2 linked regions of the Homo sapiens genome follow. Each later gene encodes a partner of the first gene's protein in a complex. Each region holds a gene or a part of one and is shown in the gene's direction. Other genes may lie near its edges. The genes, in order: ADM2 and CALCRL.

Region 1 (3,918 bases):
GTAATCCCAGCAGTTTGGGAGGCAGAGGTGGGCGGATTGCTTGAGGTCCAGACTTCAAGATCAGCCTGGCCAGCATGGTGAAACCCCGTCTCTACTAAAAATACAAAAATTAGCCAGGTGTGGTGGCAGGCGCCTGTAACCCCAGCTACTTGGGAGGCTGAGGCAGGAGAATTACTTGAACCTGGGAGGCGGAGGTCGCAGTGAGCCAAGATTGTGCCACTGCACTCCAGCCTGGGCGACAGAGTGAGACTCCATCTCAAAAAAGCAAACAAACAACAACAACAACAAAACACTGGGTGCAGTGGCTCACACCTGTAATCACAGCACTTTGGGAGGCCAAGGTGGGTGGATCACCTAAGGTCAGGAATTCGAGACCATCCTGGCCAACATGGTGAAACCCTCTCTCAAATACAAAAATTATCTGGGCGTGGTGGTGGGCACTTATAATTCCAGCTACTCAGGAGGCTGAGGCAGGAGAATCGCTTAAACCTGGGAGGCGGAGTTTGCAGTGAGCTGAGATTTCGCCACGGCACTCCAGCCTGGGTGACACAGTGGGACTCCATCTCAAAAAAAAAAAAAACATATAAATGTGACACTCCCTGCCCCCTCAACTGGTCAAAATAAGTAAATAATACCTGCAAGGCATCCCTGCCCTCCCAGATCGGCCTGTGGGGTGTGTGCTCGGCACTCCTCGACTTATTCACCCAGCAAATGTTGACTGTGCTCCCATGGTGTGTCAGCAGGAGGGTTACGGGGTGAGCGCAGGGGTTGGGGAGACAGAAGGGGAAGCACGAACGGACGCAGAGATCCTCAGCTCACCCAACAGAGAGGCCAGTCTCAGCAGCTTGGAACCCGTGACACCAAGTCCAGGACTCGTGGACAGTGGGTAGGCGAAAGCTCTGTGGAGAACAGTGAACCATCTATCAACATAAACACATGCTCACCTTCAACCAGAATTTCTACTTCCAGGAAGGTGTCCTATAGACACATCTGTGAGCTCAAGGCAGCAACTCATGAAAAGACTGGCAGTCACCTAATTTCATATTAATAGCAGATGAGATGAATCATACAACACCTATATGTTGGAGTAGATCCAACCATAGGAAAGAGTGGGGTCTCTGATGTGAGGACGGTCGGGCTGTGACGCCTGTCACCCCACTGGTCACCAGTGTTGATTCGGCTGATGTGGCTGGCTCAGAGGCAGGTGTCCCCCTCCTTCCCCACTGTTCCCTGTGCGTCCCTCCGAAGCTGCACGCTCCATCGAAGAGGATGGAGGACCGGGCTTCGAGTAGCTGCGCTCCTCTGCCAGGACCTCCAAACAAGCTCTCAGGAAAGAACGGGGTCTCAGTCCTACTGCAAATCTGCACACATGGATGTGTGTGCCTCACATAGCCACACCTAGGTGTGCCCAGGGCAAGTCAGGAGAGGGCTCCCCCCCAGACCAGGGTAGGGGTCCCAAGTGGGTGGCAATGGTGAGGGGAGTCTCACGTTTCACTCGTTTTAAATTTTTCTTTTTCTTTTTTTTTTTTCTTTTTTTGAGACGGAGTCTCGCTCTGTCGCCCAAGCTGGAGTGCAATGCCGCGATGTCGGCTCACTGCAACCTCCGCCGCCTGGATTCAAGCCTCAGCCTTTCCTGCCTCAGCCTCCCGAGTAGCTGAGATTACAGGCACCCGCCACCACGCCCGGCTAATTTTTTGTATTTTTAGTAGAGACGGCCTTTCACCTTGTTAGCCAGGATGGTCTCGATCTCCTGACCTCGTGATCCGCCCGCCTCGGCTTCCCAAACTGCTGGGATTACAGGCGTGAGCCACCGCGCCCGGACACTTTAAATCTGTTACAAAAACCGTGCAATACTTTGGTCCGGGGTTGGAGCGGCCGAGGGTCGGTACAGCCTTTTAGGAGCGCAGCCCCGGGGTCGGCGGCACCGCGTCAGAGGAGAGCGGAATGGCCAGCCCGCTGCGGAATCCCGCGGACTTGCTGGTCAGGCTGGGGGGCCGGGGTCCACCGGGTCAGACCCTGGAGGGTGGGACCGCCCGGACTCGGGAGGTGGTTGACGGGGTGGGCCCCGTCGGGTCCGAGTCCGCCCCAGCCGTGGGATCAGCTCGGACGACGGTTCGCCCCCCAGAACCCCGCTGCAGCGTGGGGAAGTCCGGCCCCCGCAGGCTCGGGGCTGCGTCCCCACCAGAAGGCGCTTGGAGTGAGGCTGGCGGTCCCGCGGTCCCGGGCCGGTCGCCGAGCGCTCCCAGCGGGGACAGGCCCCTCCACCGCTCCCTTCGCCGCAGCCCCCTCCCCGCCCCGAGGGTGGCTGGGCCCGGAGGAGGGGCGCCCCGCCCCGTCCGTGCATCCGGCTCCGCCCCTTGCTGGAAAGGCTACGTATTCAGCCCTGGAGGTGCCATCCCGGGCCGCGACTCCGCTCCAGGCAGGACCCCCAACCCGCCCAGCCCGCTCCGCCTTGCGCCCCGGACCCGCGGCCGACCCCAGACCCGCTGCCCGCTTCGCGCCCGAGGCCTGCGCCCCGACGGACGCCCGTGCCCAGCTTGCCACGCCCACGCCCGGCGCCCCGACCGCGGAGGACTCCCCGAGGTGCCGGCGGAGGGGGTGGCTCGCGGCTCAGGCTGCCCCCGACGTGCCCGGCTCACCGCCCCCTCCCCTGCAGCCCCGCCCGCCATGGCCCGGATCCCGACGGCCGCCCTGGGTTGCATCAGCCTCCTCTGCCTGCAGCTCCCTGGCTCGCTGTCCCGCAGCCTGGGCGGGGACCCGCGACCCGTCAAACCCAGGTGAGTCCAGGTCTTGGGCCAGCCAACCCCTCTGGCCCCCGCAGGGAAGCAGAGTGCCGGGGGCCGCGGGGCCGCCCTCCCTCCACGCCTCCACCTGCTGCTAGGACTCCCCTCCCAAACAAAGGCCCCTACCCCAGGCTCAGGAGCGCCTGAGCAGGGCCAGAGGCCCCTCTTTCTCTGCCTCCCTACACAGGGCAGTTGCTCCTCCCCACACACATGGGCACAGCAGCCCCTCTTCTGGGGGTGTCTGCTGGGGGAGGGGAGGCTGGCGGTATCCCTGGCCGGCCTGTGACCACCCTAAAGGGAGGGCAGAAGCCGAGTCACCCTGAGCCCTGAGAGTGGTGACCCGCAGAGGCTGGGCCGCCGGGGTGCCCTTTGGCCAAGGAGGTGCCGGTTCCCGGGACACGTGACCCGGGCCACTGAGATGGTCCCAGGCCCAAGCCCAGAGGGGACGCGGGCTTCCCCTGGCCGTGCTCCAGGCTGTGTGTGGATGGGGGCTGTGGGCTTCCCCTGGCAGTGACCCAGGCCTGTGTAGAGGCAAAAGTGGGCAGGTGTGAGTTCTCCAAAAGGCTGAGCCATCTGGTTGACATTCTCCATCTGCCTCTGCAGGGAGCCCCCAGCCCGGAGCCCTTCCAGCAGCCTGCAGCCCAGGCACCCCGCACCCCGACCTGTGGTCTGGAAGCTTCACCGGGCCCTCCAGGCACAGAGGGGTGCCGGCCTGGCCCCTGTTATGGGTCAGCCTCTCCGGGATGGTGGCCGCCAACACTCGGGCCCCCGAAGACACTCGGGCCCCCGCAGGACCCAAGCCCAGCTCCTGCGAGTGGGCTGTGTGCTGGGCACCTGCCAGGTGCAGAATCTCAGCCACCGCCTGTGGCAACTCATGGGACCGGCCGGCCGGCAGGACTCAGCTCCTGTGGACCCCAGCAGCCCCCACAGCTATGGCTGAGGTGGGGCCGGGCCACACCCCTGCCCATCCCAGCCAGGGTGCTGTGCCCCCGTCCAGAGCTGCAGCTGAGCCCCATCTGAAGCCCAGTCCCTCGGAGCTGCAGACAGCAGGTCCTGCAGCAACAATACCTGCACGGCTTTGCACACGTAAACCTAGGCTGGTCTACACGCAGTGCTGGTACGTCAAGGAGCCTAA
Region 2 (3,918 bases), on another chromosome or scaffold:
TTTATTTCATACTCTATATATGACTTTTAATACAGCTTTATCAAATAATTCTGGTTTTGGAGATATAATGATTACAGTATCGACTTTTCACAATACAAATATGTTCAAGAAATAGTATTTAAAATCTTTTGCTTTATTGCGTATCTTATGCTTGGCATTCAGAGAAGCTATTAAACCATAAACACAAGCGCTATCATTGCAAGGGTGTTAATGAAAGACGCTCTTATGAGAGTCAAGTGTGTAACGTATCTTAGTTTTGACTTAATCAGAATATTGGAGAATACGCTTAAGATAGACAAATGGTACACAGCTATTTAAAACATTTATCTGTATCTGGTTTTCAAATCCATGGGTAAACTATAAACATTCATAATTTCTCAGGTATGTTCTATTTTTCTGACAAAGTACATGTACCATACTGGATTACAAATTATTTCAAGACATCTTCTCGTTTAATATACAAAAATATTATGATGCAAATAGGTGGAAAATAAAAACTTACCAGAAATACAAGTCTACATTCTAACCAGATGGATCTATCCTTTTCCCATATATTCACATGGACCATGTAAATTAGATTAGGTCAATTAATCTCTGCATTTTTCCTTATTTGAATAATCTTAAAATCAAATTAATTTAATTATAATAAGCTATATTACAAAAAAGAGAAGAAATGTATTCAATTTTTAAGGACATAATAAGGTCTTACTTCTTCTTACAAAAATATAAAATAGTATCACTGCCTGTGAACTGAGTTAGGGTCTATGTTTCCTAGGTTACTAGAATTATTATCAGGTAATAAGTTGCAAATATTTTCCTAAAACACATTTCTTCCATTTTTTTCTTCAATTAGTTTGTTTACTTAAGAGACAGTATTATTCAAAACTAATACACCAAAATATTATTGTTTGCAAAAATGGCCCAAATAGTGTATTTACTTTTGAAATGTTAAGCAAGTTTTATTTTTTAATGTTTTCATGGTTTAAATTAAATGTGTTATACACCTTTTCCATTACTAAAAATTAAAAAGACAAAAATCCCAACCCAGTTCAATCTAGCATAAGCCAAAATGAATACATAAATAACCCCTATGGTATTGGGGCTATAGTTTTATATTTTATTAACACTGCTGGATGGAGCCCAATTTTCAGACAAATCTTATTTCCCTTAACATGGAACATATCTTTTTGAATTAAAAAGTGTTAATATGACATAAACTTTTGTATAAAACTGTAGTTATTTCTCTATTCAGGCTTAGGCTAACCTAAGCTCATTTATGTTTCTCATGAAATTATGGTGAATTTTGAGCATATCATTTGGTATGTTAAATTGCAATGATTTACTTACATAGCAACTAGATGGTTTATAAGTGCCCATCTCCTTACAGTGCAGTCACATGGAGGATCAATAGCATATTCGTGAGCACACAGGTTTGGTTTTATTAACCAAAATGAAGATAAATTTTTCTTGTATCCAACTACCAAATTCATAAATTTTACAAATGAGTGTTAATTTGAACCCGCATTCACTAATTAAACTGAGACCAATGATTACACAGATATTTTGCATATGCACCTCAATTTTGCCTTTCTTCCAAGGATAATTTGAAGGAAAAATAGAAACTTTGGTAAGTATCAGAGAGCAATAAATAACATTATAATAGACAAAGAGAGTTAAAACCATGGGAAAAGAATGTCATCAATACAAAACTGTGATTTTTATTTTGTACTTAGTAATGGAAACAATATTAGAGTAACATGTTTATTGTTTTATTAGTCAATGTGCATATGTCTTTAAAATTTTACTTTTAATGATGTATTTGTTTCTGTCTTTTCTACAAATATACCAATGTACTTTATAAATTAAGAAAAAATATGCATTTATTTTAGAAATTTAGGTATATGGTATTTATAGAAGTACACTGTGATGCGCTTTGGATTTAGATCATCCACATAAGAACCCAAAATTTACCACTTATTAGTTCCCCTTTCTCATCCATAAAGTGGAAGTGATAATCATATTGCTTTATAAGGTTTTGTAAGTAATCCATGAATTAACACGTGGAAATTTTTTAGCACTTGGCATTTAGTACATATTCAATAAATTTTCATGTTCACCTTAAGTCTGTTGTGAATGAGACTGAGGACATAATTTGTTTCTATGCAAAATTTTATTCCAAACAATCAACACCCATACGGATAAACAGAATGCAATCTATCTGTAAGACAGGAAGAGTGAACAAGTGTGATTTATAATTACAGTTGTTACAGTGACCATCCTTTTGCCATTATACAATACATGCCAGAACCTAATAAAATTGATATTGATAATTACTATCTCCATAGAACTTGAGCACTTTAAAATACCTGCATATTAACAATTTAAAAAGGTATATTAAACAAAAATTATTGCGTTTCTTTACATGTGAAACTCAGTGAAACCCAAAGTTGCACAATCCTCGTTGACAAAACTCTGGTTTTATCCTACATATATTATGAATCTACATCCTAAATATTTCATTATACTATTGTGTATTATCTATTATTAGACCTCTCATTACTGAAGTTGTGCAAAGTTGAATAGTGATATGATTCACCAAATCCAAACTGAATCTCTTCTAACACAAGATAATAAAAGTAAATTTATTTACACAAATTTGTTTGCTACTTGTGTGACTATACTACAGTAGAGATAAATGTAGACATCTGTCGGAAAATTTTAGTTTTGATTACTATAGCAGCTCCACAATCTCAAAATGAGAACATTAAGAAGGATCCAATAAATTCAGCTTTTAGGATTCCAAGTTGTTTTTGACCATTTTTTTTAAAGTTCTTATTATAGGAACTTATTACTGCCACCTAATGGAAGACACTTATATTTTCTTATTTATTATATTTCAAAAATACAAAGAAAGAGTGCCTGTGCAATAGGATGGCAAAAAAAATTTAGGTTTTGGCTTAACATAATTCATTTTAAGAATTTATCATTGAATATTTTATAAATTAAGACCCACATTGAGAATGTAATGAAACCAAAACCTTTTTTTCCATAAATTAAAAAAAAATACATTCAAAGGGATTCTCATTTTGCTTACAGTTGCATGAGTTTCATAGGATCTCCTTTTTGTTAGCTATGTTAAGAGTTCTTCAACTCTCAGTTTAAACACCCATGTTGCAGGTAATTCACGTGACAGTTACTCTTATAAAATAAGGTAAAATATATATATACGTATATGTATACATATATACACACATATATGTGTGCGTATATATGTGTGTGTATGTATGTGTGTGTGTATGTATGTATATGTATATGTGTGTGTATGTATATATATATATATATATATATATATATATATATAATGTTTTTAAGCCACCTCAGATACTTTTATAGATCAAGGAGTAAGGAACAGAATTCAAAAGACAGACATGGACATCAGAAACAAATGGCCAAGAGTTTTCCCAGCAGACAGACAGCATGAGTTGCAGGGCGTTAGGAAAAACTATACAGTAAGTACAATCTGCAGTTGGTAATTTTCCATCTGTCTTTTGGTATCCCTCTCCTTCCACTAAGTTTTCTCACTTAGCCTGTCTAACGTTCACTTTTTTCCAAACCATAGGCCCAATAGCTGCATTCTGGCCTCAAGTGGTCAAGAGTAGCATATTTTCCTGTATGCTAAAATTGCTCTTTTTCTAAACAAATTAAAATCTGGTAATATTGCAGTATATTTCATTTGGGGGAAGGAAGCAGACTGATTTTTCATCCCAGAGTTTATTTCTGTCAAAGAATATTTATATTTTAACTCATATGACTATACATTTATTTCCTTTAGGGGATACTAGGATTAAACAATATGGTCCATAGAAGTACCTCATAAGAGGTACTTATGAGGTGCCTGGCCCTATGCTAGGTGTCGAA

Evidence for each region.
Region 2: the proteins of ADM2 (region 1) and CALCRL are in contact, whole or in part, in a cryo-EM structure (PDB 6UVA), measured with the Homo sapiens proteins. Residues at the interface, in NP_001240774.1 of Homo sapiens: Leu106 (codon at 3,592), Arg107 (codon at 3,595), Val108 (codon at 3,598), Gly109 (codon at 3,601), Cys110 (codon at 3,604), Val111 (codon at 3,607), Leu112 (codon at 3,610), Gly113 (codon at 3,613), Thr114 (codon at 3,616), Cys115 (codon at 3,619), Gln116 (codon at 3,622), Val117 (codon at 3,625), Gln118 (codon at 3,628), Asn119 (codon at 3,631), Leu120 (codon at 3,634), Ser121 (codon at 3,637), His122 (codon at 3,640), Arg123 (codon at 3,643), Leu124 (codon at 3,646), Trp125 (codon at 3,649), Gln126 (codon at 3,652), Leu127 (codon at 3,655), Met128 (codon at 3,658), Gly129 (codon at 3,661), Pro130 (codon at 3,664), Ala131 (codon at 3,667), Gly132 (codon at 3,670), Arg133 (codon at 3,673), Gln134 (codon at 3,676), Asp135 (codon at 3,679); in NP_001258680.1 of Homo sapiens: Val36, Thr37, Lys40, Asp70, Gly71, Trp72, Asp90, Tyr91, Phe92, Gln93, Asp94, Phe95, Asp96, Pro97, Ser98, His114, Ala116, Ser117, Thr120, Trp121, Thr122, Tyr124, Thr125, Asn128, Thr131, Lys134, Val135, Ala138, Leu139, Leu141.

The regions. Positions count from the first base shown.
Region 1 is NC_000022.11:50,479,181-50,483,098, forward strand, and holds the start of ADM2 (protein ADM2 preproprotein), read left to right. Parts: upstream 1-2,362; 5' UTR 2,363-2,583; exon of another isoform or gene 2,584-2,656; 5' UTR 2,657-2,667; coding exon 2,668-2,777; intron 2,778-3,386; coding exon 3,387-3,723; 3' UTR 3,724-3,918. UniProt on the Homo sapiens protein: Intermedin/ADM2 is a peptide hormone that plays a role as physiological regulator of gastrointestinal and cardiovascular bioactivities mediated by the CALCRL-RAMPs receptor complexes.
Region 2 is NC_000002.12:187,441,514-187,445,431, reverse strand, and holds part of CALCRL (calcitonin gene-related peptide type 1 receptor precursor), read left to right. Parts: intron 1-3,918. UniProt on the Homo sapiens protein: G protein-coupled receptor which specificity is determined by its interaction with receptor-activity-modifying proteins (RAMPs). Together with RAMP1, form the receptor complex for calcitonin-gene-related peptides CALCA/CGRP1 and CALCB/CGRP2.